Linked DNA regions of Homo sapiens. The protein of the gene in region 3 purifies or fractionates together with the protein of the main gene of each other region. This does not show direct contact. Each region holds a gene or a part of one and is shown on either strand. Other genes may lie near its edges.

Region 1 (3,500 bases), on a different chromosome or scaffold from region 3:
GCCTTGTTTTTTTTTATGCCCTGTTATCTATTCAAACGCCATGGTATTTACCAGTTCTTTTTTTTTTAATCCCCTGAAGAATCTGCTGCTTATTTAAAAAGGGGAAAGGAAAAATCTTATTTTTCCCTTTAGCCTGCTAAGTGTGCCTTGTTTAATTATTTCCTCAGAAAACATGGTAAGAGGCTTAGATGAAGATGAGACCAACTTCCTTGATGAGGTTTCTCGACAGCAGGAACTAATAGAAAAGCAACGAAGAGAAGAAGAACTGAAAGAACTGAAGGAATACAGAATATCCTTTGTACTTGGAGGAAAACCTGTAAGGTGTCCATTTTCTCATCAGCATCTATGGATGTTGTCTCCTCATCAACAGAAAGAGGGTTTTCTACCTGGTGATCTCTCAAGTCCCTTTGAACACTGATATTCCTGTAATTCTGAAAAGCTGGTAGTGGTTTGTGGAGTTTGTGTTGTGTGCAAGAGTGTTATAGTCAAAAGTCCACATCCTTCTTAGGGTTAACTCAAGGCATCAATCCTACTAGTACTGGGATTAGATTCTGACACAGGTGGGCAGTGCAGTCAGCTTCATCCAGGGGAGAAATTGGGCTCTGAGTTTTAAAAGAACATGTTTAGCAACTTTCCTATATTCTTAGTAAGATGTTCTCTAGTGGTATAGCATGCCCTGTCCTGATAGAAGGGCTGAGAAAGCAGCAAAGATGACTTTGCTCTAGATCAGTGTTGCCTTTTGGTCATCCACTTGAATGTCTTCATAGACATCCCAAATGAAACTTGGCTGAATCAAAATTCTCAATACTGTGCCACATCACCCCCACTCTCATCACACTGCCCTTCCCCAAAGTCTCTTCTTTTTCTGGTCCTCCCAGTCCCAGTAACTGGTAGTCCTATGCCTCCAGGTGCCTGGGCCAAGAACTGTTTCCAAAACGTACTCCAAATCTCTTGAATTGTTGGTATCTACTGCTACTGTAGTAGTAGTAGACTTTCTTCTCGACTCCTGTGACCATCTAATTGGTTTGTTTCTGCTCTCATCCTCAATAATCTATTCCTTAGACAAGAAAGGGAACTTTAAAAACCATACATGGCATCATGTCACTTTTCTATTTGAAACAGTCTAGTGGGTTCCCCTTACATTTAGACTAAAGTCTTACTCTGTATCAGGCCGTAGAAGGTTCTACATTATTTAGGCCAACCCGCCTCCTTCTTGCATCTTGAAGCCACTCTTTCTCATGTTGACTGTACTGCAGCCTGCTGGCCTTCTTTATGTTCTCTTTCACCATGCTTTCTGAGTCAATCTCAGGGCCTCAGACTTGCTGTTTCCTCAGCCCAAAATGTTCTGCCCTCAGATTTTGCAAGATGCATTTCACAGCTCAGCCCTCTGCTCAGCTCTCCCTTTTAGAAACCTTCCCTAAGCACCCCACCTAAAATTGCTGTCGGTAATATCAATTTTTTTTTTTGAGATGGAGTTTCTCTCTTGTTGCCCAGGCTGGACTGCAGTGGCGCGATCTCGTCTCACTGCAACCTCCGCCTCCCGGGTTCAAGCGATTCTCCTGTCTCAGCCTCCCAAGTAGCTGGGGTTACAGGTGCATGCCACCACGCCCAGCTAATTCTTGTATTTTTAGTAGAGACGAGGTTTCATCATATTGGTCAGGCTGGTCTCGAACTCGTTACCTCAGGTGATCCGCCCACTCCAGCATCCCAAAGTGCAGGGATTACAGGCGTAAGCCACCGCACCCAGCAAGTAATATCATTTTTTATAGATTTGTCACTATCTGAAAGTTGTCTTTATTTATTTGCCTACTGGTTTGTTTATCTCTTTCCTGCTAGAATGTAAAGTAAATGAGCTCCATAAGAAAAAAGACTATCTGACTTGGTCACTTCTGATTTCTCCAGTGCCTGGCATATAGTAGATTCTCAGTAAATATGTGAATAAATTAATAAATGATTCATAGGAGATATTAATAGGACCATTTATCTTCATGTGAGGAAGCTTATTTGGATATTTCAAGCTTATATGTTGAGTAACATCACTGGTGTAATCCAACAGGCTTCACGTCTAAGATGGACGACATTACTGTGTATATGTACTAGTTGGTATTTTCTTGCAGAGAATGTGCAGCACATTCCATTTTAAGAGTTACGTGGGAGGCCTGGACACAGTGGCTCACGCCTTTGATTCCAGCACTTTGGGAGGCCGAGGCAGGAGGATCGCTTGAGGTCAGGAGTTTGAGACCAGCCTGGCCAAAATGGTGAAACCCTGTCTCTGCTAAAAATACAAAAATTAGCCGGGCATGGTGGCTTGTGCCTGTAGTCCCAACTACTCAGGAGGCTGAGGCAGGAGAATCGCTTGAACCTGGAAGGTGGAGATTGCAGTGCGCCAAGGTCACGCCACTGTACTCCAGGCTGGGGACAGAGCAAGACTTTATCTTAAAAAAAAAAAAAAAAAAAAGCGTTGTATGGGAGAAGACATGGACAGATTCCCTGATTCCCTGGGAATTGATTTACATCAGAACTGGTAGGAAAAGACCTGGCTTCCAGTCCCAGTTCTGTTACTGGCATTCAGGTGCAACATGGAGATGGAAGCTCATGGGAAGTTATACCTCAATCTCAACTGTAGGATTGAGGCTGATTATTCTGAACTCCCCCTTCCCTGACCCTGATGACCCCAAAATAATATGTGTTCGTTTGTAGAGATAGGCAGATACCCATATTGTGTTGTTTCAGACACCAAGCTTTTTCCTCTAAGGAAATACATTCATTACACTTCTCACTTGAATGATATTATGTTTTATTTTGGTAGACTAGCAAATAAGACATATAGTGTCCCCCAAAGTAGCATCTGGGGAGAAGTGCTGTTGAGTGTGAGATGCCCTTTGGTTTTCAATTAAAAGGAAAGAATGAACAGGGCAGCAGTGAGACAAAAGAAACCTTTGTGTCCTGGTAACATTGCAGTACAATGAGGCTCCAGGGATAAGGGCTTTAACTGGAAACTTGGAAAGTTCTGTCTAGAAAAACTGAAGAAAAGCAGGCCTTCCAAGTCACTGACATCTAATACACTAATCCCAAGCATGCAAGTAGCCAGAGACATGTTGAGATAGGAATTGAAGGATTAGACATTTGTTTATTGAAGCTCTAAGTTAGGAACTGTTTCTAGGCTTTGCTTGATTACTATATGATATGTTGTATAATAGGATACTTCTGAATACAAATAAGCTGTGGTTTAAACCATGTAAATAACAGAACTCTTGTTTCGTCTCAGGTTAAACCAGTATTTAGCAGTATTGTGTATGTTAAAAAACGGTGCAATTTTAAGAGAATGCTGATCTAATGAATTTCTTGAGATTTTTGAGGTGTGTTTGTGTTTTTAAAGCATTTTGGGAGAAGAGGGGCTTAAGAAGGAAAAATTGCTTGTACTTTGCGGATCAAAAATAAGATTATTAACACCCCCTACCCCTAAAAGGTTAGGACTTTTCTTCATTTCAAAAGAATAA
Region 2 (3,734 bases), about 56 Mb from region 3:
AGTAGCTGGAACTACAGGCACGCACCACCATACCTAGCTAACTTGTGTATTTTTAGTAGAAATATGGTTACCCCCTGTTGGCCAGGATAATGTCGATCTCTTGACCTCATGATCTGCCTGCCTCGGCCTCCCAGAGTGCTGGGATTACAGGTGTGAGCCACCATGCCTGGCCTGTTACTAGACTTTTTTTTTTTTGAGACAGAGTCTTGCTCTGTCCCCCAGGCTGGAGTGCAGTGGCAGGATCTCCACTCACTGCAAGCTCCACCTCCTGGGTTCACACCATTCTCCTGCCTCAGCCTCCCAAGTAGCTGGGACTACAGGCACCCGCCACCACACCCGGATAATTTTTTTTGTATTTTTAGTAGAGACGGGGTTTCACCATGTTAGCCAGGATGGTCTTGATCTTCTGACCTCGTGATCCACCCACCTCGGCCTCCCAAAGTGCTGGGATTACAGGCGTGAGCCACTGTGCCTGGCTGTTTTTAGACTTTTAATTCTGTTCCATTGATCTGTATAGATGCCTGTCCTTATGCCAGTACCACACTGTTTTGATTACTGTAGCTTTATAGTAAGTTCTGAAGATTTTATTCCTTGTTTTTGTTCTGTTCCTTCATTATTGACTTGGCTTTTTTGACAGTTTGATTATGACATCTAGGTGAGGCTGGCTCCCTTTTAGTTTATTTTACTTGGAATTCATTGAGCTTCTTGGGTGTAATTTTTTTCATGTCAAATTTGGAAAGTTTTTAGCCATTATTCTTTCAAATATTCTTTCTTCTTTTCTCTTCTGTATGTTGGTATGCTTAATAGTGTCCCTCAGGTTCTGTGACTCTGTTTATTTTTCTTCACTGTTTTTTCCTCCTGTTTCGCAGTTTGGGTAATCTCAATTGACCTGTCTTCAAGTTTGCTTGTTCTTTCTTCTAAATGCTAAAAAGTGGTTTTGAGCCCCTTTCATGAACGCTTATCTTTTCCCCCTTTTACTTTTGAACTCCAGAATTTGTATTTGATTCTTAAAAAAATGGTAATAATAATTTCTATCTCGTTATCAGTATCAATAGTGATACTGATATTTATTGATATTCTCTACTTAAAAGACGTTATTCCCATACTTTCCTTTAGTAATTTTTGCATAGTTTTCTTAGCTCTTTGAGCATATTTAAAATAGGTGATTTAGAGACTGTTTTCTGCTAAGTTCTTCATATGTGGGCTTCCTCAGGGACAGATTTTATTGATTGCTTTCTTTTTCCTATGTATGGGCCATACTTTGTTGTTTCTTTGTCTAATTTTTTTTTTTTTGCTGTTATTGAGAAATGGATTTTTAAATAACACAATGGGGTGACTCAGGAAATCAGATGCTCCTTTCTTCCCATGGTTGCTATTGGTACGTGATATAGTTGTTCTTGTTTAATGACTTTTCTGAACTAATTCTGTAAAGTTTGTATTCTTTATTGTGTCTGACCAGTGAAATCTGTACTTGGTGAACTTAGTGGCCAAGTAATTATTAGATGGCGATTTCCTTAAACTCCTGGGATCAGTAAACACCTGTTTTTGTCGAGGGGCTTCATCTACCTGTTGGAGCATACCTTCATTGCTTGGCCTAACAGTTAAAAACTGCCTTAGCCTTTATTTCCTGCTGATGTTGAGTCAAAGTCAGCCAGAGGTGAGAGCTTAAGGCCTTCTTAGGTTTTTCCTGAGTGTGCAGTGAAGCTCTGTACATTCATGTGTCTTTCTAGATTCCTGGGAAAATGTCAAAGCTTTTCAAAGCCCCCACGGACATTTTATTTCCCACCTTTGCCTTTGGTTTGCCTCAGTTGTTATCTGCCACCTCAGGAGGCTGCAAAGTTAAAACACTTGCCGTATTTTCAACAGACACTCCTGGGTTGGGAGGAAGGCTTTTCTGAGTTTAGCCAGAAACAGTCAGTCAGTCTTGCAAATGAGGTCTTACAGGGAACCATCAGACAGGTCAAATGATGACAGTTCTTTGAGAATGAAGCTTTGAAAGAGCTCTAAGAGCACTGTTTTCTCCAGCGATGGCTGCTACGCTGTACCAGGAATGCGGCCTGCTGAGAGCCTGGAGAGTGGGGATGGGTCTAGGCCAAATTAAAATATCACAGAGCTCACTGTTCTTACTGAGATGTGGTTGTTTTCCTTGAATTAATGCTCCCTGGGTTCCTGCAAACCTTTGGTTAGTTTCCAAAATCCATAAGAAGTTGATACTGACAATTTTTGCCAACTTTTTGGTTGCTTTTATGGAGGAGAGCTTTTTGGAGGCCTGTAGTAACCACCATTTTCACTGACATCCTTTGGATCAGGAATCTCTTAAATCTTTTTTGTTTTCCTGAGGGTTCTTGCTGCCCTTCTTTTTTATCTTGTTATCAAAAATAGTATACTTCATCATAACCTCAGAATTACCCAGATTCATTAATACTGAGTATTGTCTAGAAATCTCTTTCTGCCTGAACTCCACTCTAGACTGGTTATTTCCTGTTCTGCTGTATAGCTACACTCCTGGTATTTTCTTCCTGCGTTTATAGATTAAATGCAGTTTTTGGACTTGAGTTGGATATTCCTCTTTTTCAGTTTTCATCCTCATTTTGTTTTTCTCAAAGTGATATATAATGTAGAATTGTTGTATATCTTAAAATGCATTTATTTTAACTTTTCACTTATTTCTCAGTTTGGGTGTATGTAGAATTCTAGCTTAAAAATAATTTTCCCTTGTTAGGATTGAAAGGGATATCTTCTTACACTCTGTGTAATTGATTCTGGAAGTCTATTCCATCTCTTTGTGAGTAAGCTTTTTCTCCTCCTTGGAACTTTCAGGACCTTTTTAAAAACACCCAGTGTCATAAAATTTCATGAGTCTTTCATTCATTCTGCTTAGCTCTTGGTGGGACTTTTCAATCTGGAGGCATATTTTCCTTTGGCTCTGGAAAATTATCTTATTACTGTCATAATTTCTGGAATGCCAAATTGATTGCCTGAATTGATCTGTGTTTCTACCTTGATTTCTTTGACTTTATCTTCCAGCCTCTTTATTGAAGTTTAATTTTAGCTACTGTATTTTAAATTCTTGTGTTCTTTCTTTTTGGCCTAATTGTTCTATTTTCATATTTTATTCTGGTTATATGGATATAGTGTCTTCTCAGATCTCTGTGAAGACATAAAATAGAAATATTTTTGGATATCTTTTTTCCAAATTAGCTCTGTATTTTTTTTTAACTTGTTTTCATCTGCCTGTTTTTTCTCACAAGATGCAGTCTTCAGTTCTCTAGTTTTTTTTTTTTTTTTTTTTGAGACAGAATTTCACTCCTGTTGCTCAGGCTCCTGTTGCAATGGTGCAGTCTCGGCTCACCGCAACCTCTGCCTCCCAGGTTCAAGCGATTCTCCTGCCTCAGCCTCCGGAGTAGCTGGGGTTACAGGCATACAACACCACGCCTGGCTAATTTTGTATTTTTGGTAGAGACGGGGTTTCTCCATGTTGGTCAGGCTGGTCTCGAACTGTCAACCTTAGGTGATCTGCCTGCCTCGGCCTCCTAAAGTGCTGAGATTACAGGTGTGAGCCACCATGCCCGGTCTTTTTTTTTTTTTTAATACAAAAATATTTTTCTCCCATTCTCTTGAGTGTGGGACCGTATTGATGGGTTTGTCTACTGTGTGTCTGAAACCTGCTCGTCCCACCACCACCGACAGCTGAGTGGATTGACCAGTCAGCTTTGCTTTATAGGACATAGGGT
Region 3 (2,879 bases):
TGAGGCAGGAGATTCTCTTGAACCTGGGAGGCTGAGGTTGCAGTGAGCTGAGATCGTGCCACCCTACTCCAGCCTGGGCCACAGAGCGAGACTCCGTCTCAAAGAAAAAGAAAAAAGATGTGAGCAGGGCATCGTGGGTTACATAAGACTTAGGTAGGGATAGAGAAGGCATTCTGTGTGATGAGGAGGGGGATAGGCACGAAACTTGCACATACCTGGGACAGTGACAAGACGGGTCTCACTAAAGCACAGAAGGCATCTTGGGAATCACTGAGGTATGAGGTGGTACAGGTGGGCACAAGCTTAGAGAGGTGTAGATTTGGGGAAGAGTCACTGCAGGTTCTGGAATAGGAGAAGGCAACCCCCAAGAGGTGACTGAGAATGTGTCAGGAGCCTTGTGCAGAGGAGGCCAAGGAGGGGAGCCCGCCAGGAGGCTGTTGAGTGATGACAGCACTTGAGACAAGCGCCTGGTGCTGCAGCGAGAATGGGAAGGAATGGATACAGGAGCTATTTGGGAAGAAAATGAATAGGGCCTCAAAACTGATTAGATGTAGAAGAGAGGGGTATAAGACAGAGGTGGCTCTGGAAGAAAGATATCTCACACCTGTAATCCCAGCACTTTGGGAGACCAAGGTGGGTGGATCACGTGAGCCCAGGAGCATGAGATCAGCCTGGACAACATGGTGAAACCCTGTCTCTAGAAAAAATAAAAAATTAGCCAGGTGTGGTGGTGGGTGCTTTTAGTCCCAGCTACTCGGGAGTCTGAGGCACGAGAATTGCTTGAGCCTGGGAGGCAGAGGTTGCGGTGAGCCGAGATCGTGCCACAACATTCCAGCCTGGGCAACGGAGAGAGACTCTGTCTCAAAACAAAACAAAACAAAAACCACACTCAATTGGAAACGTCTAGCTGGCAATTAGATTCTACCTGGGAACATGGTTGAACAAACAGAAGTAGAGACTGAAAAGCAACTCTGAGAAGTAGGCCCTGTGGTAGACAGGGGATGAAGAGGTGCCTCTAAGACAGGCCGTGCACCCCTCTAACACTGTCCCAGAAGCCACATGAGAAGGAAGTTCCAAATGGGGTGGGTGGTAGGGTTAATTGATGGTGTGACAATGTAAGATACATTTACTACTGACATGGAAAAGATAGTCATGCCATATTTTTAGGTGAAAAAGACTTTTATGAAATGGTTTACATAGTACCATTTATTTTTATTTTTATTTTTATTTTATTTTCAAGATAGAGTCTTGCTCTGTCTCCCAGGCTGGAGTGCAATGGCGCGATCTCGGCTCACTGCAACCTCTGCCTCCCAGGTTCAAGTGATTCTCCTGCCTCAGCCTGCCAAGATGGGATTACAGCGCCCACCACCATGCCCGGCTAATTTTTGTATTTTTAGTAGAGACGGAGTTTTACCATGTTGGCCAGGCTGGTCTCAAACTCCTGACCTCAGGTGATCTGCACACCTTGGCCTCCCAAAGTGCTGGGATTACAGGTGTGAGCCACCGCACCCAGCCTCTTTTTATTTTTATTATTACTTTTTTGAGACATGGTCTCCACTGCTTCCCAAGCTGGAGTGCAGTGACACAATCGTAGCTTGCTGCAGCTTTCAACTCCAGGGCTCAAGAGATCCTCCCGCCTCAACCTCCCAAGCAGCTAGGACTACAGGAATGCGCCACTACGCCCAGATAAGTTTTTGTTTTTTTTGTTTTTTTTGTTTTTTTTTTTTTTAGAGACAGGGTCTTGCTATGTTGCCCAAGCTTATATTGAACTCATGGCTTTAAGCAATCCTCCCACCTCAGACTCCTAAAGTGCTGGGATTACAGGTGTGAGCCACCACACCTGGCCCCATCCCATTTTTTGTTTAAAAATACACAACTTGCCCATCATGGTGGCTGACATCTGTAATCCCAACTACTCAGGAGGCTGAGACAGGAGGATTGCTTGAGGCCAGGAGTTGAAGGCTGCAGTGAGCTGTGATCACCACTGCACTCCAGCCTGGGTGACACTGAGACCCTATCTCTAAAAAATAAAAAATATACAATTTATGTGTATTTGTTTGTTTAGCCAACAGTGAAGAATATCTAGCAAGATGTTAATAGTAGATGGTGGGATTTCCAATGATTTTAAAATTAATTTTTTGCTTGCCAATGTTTCATAATTTTTCTAGAATGACCATAAATTACTTATCAGTGTCTTCAGAATTAAAGCGCTAACAGGCTCAGGAGAATGAGGGGGCAGAAGACGCCCTGGGATTTAGCCACTGAGAGGCCAAGTGCCTCTAGAGAGAGCATGTCAGTAATGTAATAGAGAGAAAAGCGAGATCCCAGGGAGGTGCTGGATAGACTGGCTGTGGGAAGGAACAGTAATGTGGTCAGCCTCAGATTGGTCATGTAACCAACTCTGCTGCTTAAGAGAGAGAGGCAGGAAGCGGCAGGAAGCAAGTAGAAGCTTTTTTTTCAAAAACAGGGTGGCCATTTTGGAAAAGAATTATGTGATAAGTTGAAAATGCTAGGCTAAGCATTTCAACTAGCTCACACCTGTAATCCTAGCACTTTGGGAGGCCAAGGCAGGTGGATTGCCTGAGCCCAGGAGTTCGGGACCAGCCTGGGCAACATGGTGAAACCCCGTCTCTACTAAAATACAAAAGAAATTAGCCAGGTGTGGCGGTGTGCACCCATAGTCCCAGCTACTCGGGAGGCTGAGGAAGGAGAATTGCTTGAACTGGAGAGGCGGAGGTTGCAGTGAACTGAAATCGTGCCACTGCACTTCAGCTTGGGCAACAGAGCGAGACTCCGTCTCTACAAAAAAAAAAAAAATGCTAGAGGCTGAGGTGGGAGGCCCGGAGTTCGAGATCACCATGAGCAACATAGTGAGACAC

What was found.
Region 1: the proteins of FBXO24 (region 3) and PSME3IP1 purify together in Homo sapiens (affinity purification with mass spectrometry; one large-scale study listed by BioGRID and IntAct). This does not show direct contact.
Region 2: the proteins of FBXO24 (region 3) and NUDCD3 purify together in Homo sapiens (affinity purification with a luminescence readout; one large-scale study listed by IntAct). This does not show direct contact.

Annotation. Positions count from the first base shown.
Region 1 is NC_000016.10:57,169,040-57,172,539, reverse strand, and holds part of PSME3IP1 (PSME3-interacting protein), read left to right. Parts: intron 1-167; coding exon 168-289; intron 290-3,500. UniProt on the Homo sapiens protein: Promotes the association of the proteasome activator complex subunit PSME3 with the 20S proteasome and regulates its activity.
Region 2 is NC_000007.14:44,407,125-44,410,858, reverse strand, and holds part of NUDCD3 (nudC domain-containing protein 3), read left to right. Parts: intron 1-3,734.
Region 3 is NC_000007.14:100,596,179-100,599,057, forward strand, and holds part of FBXO24 (F-box only protein 24), read left to right. Parts: intron 1-2,879. UniProt on the Homo sapiens protein: Substrate-recognition component of the SCF (SKP1-CUL1-F-box protein)-type E3 ubiquitin ligase complex.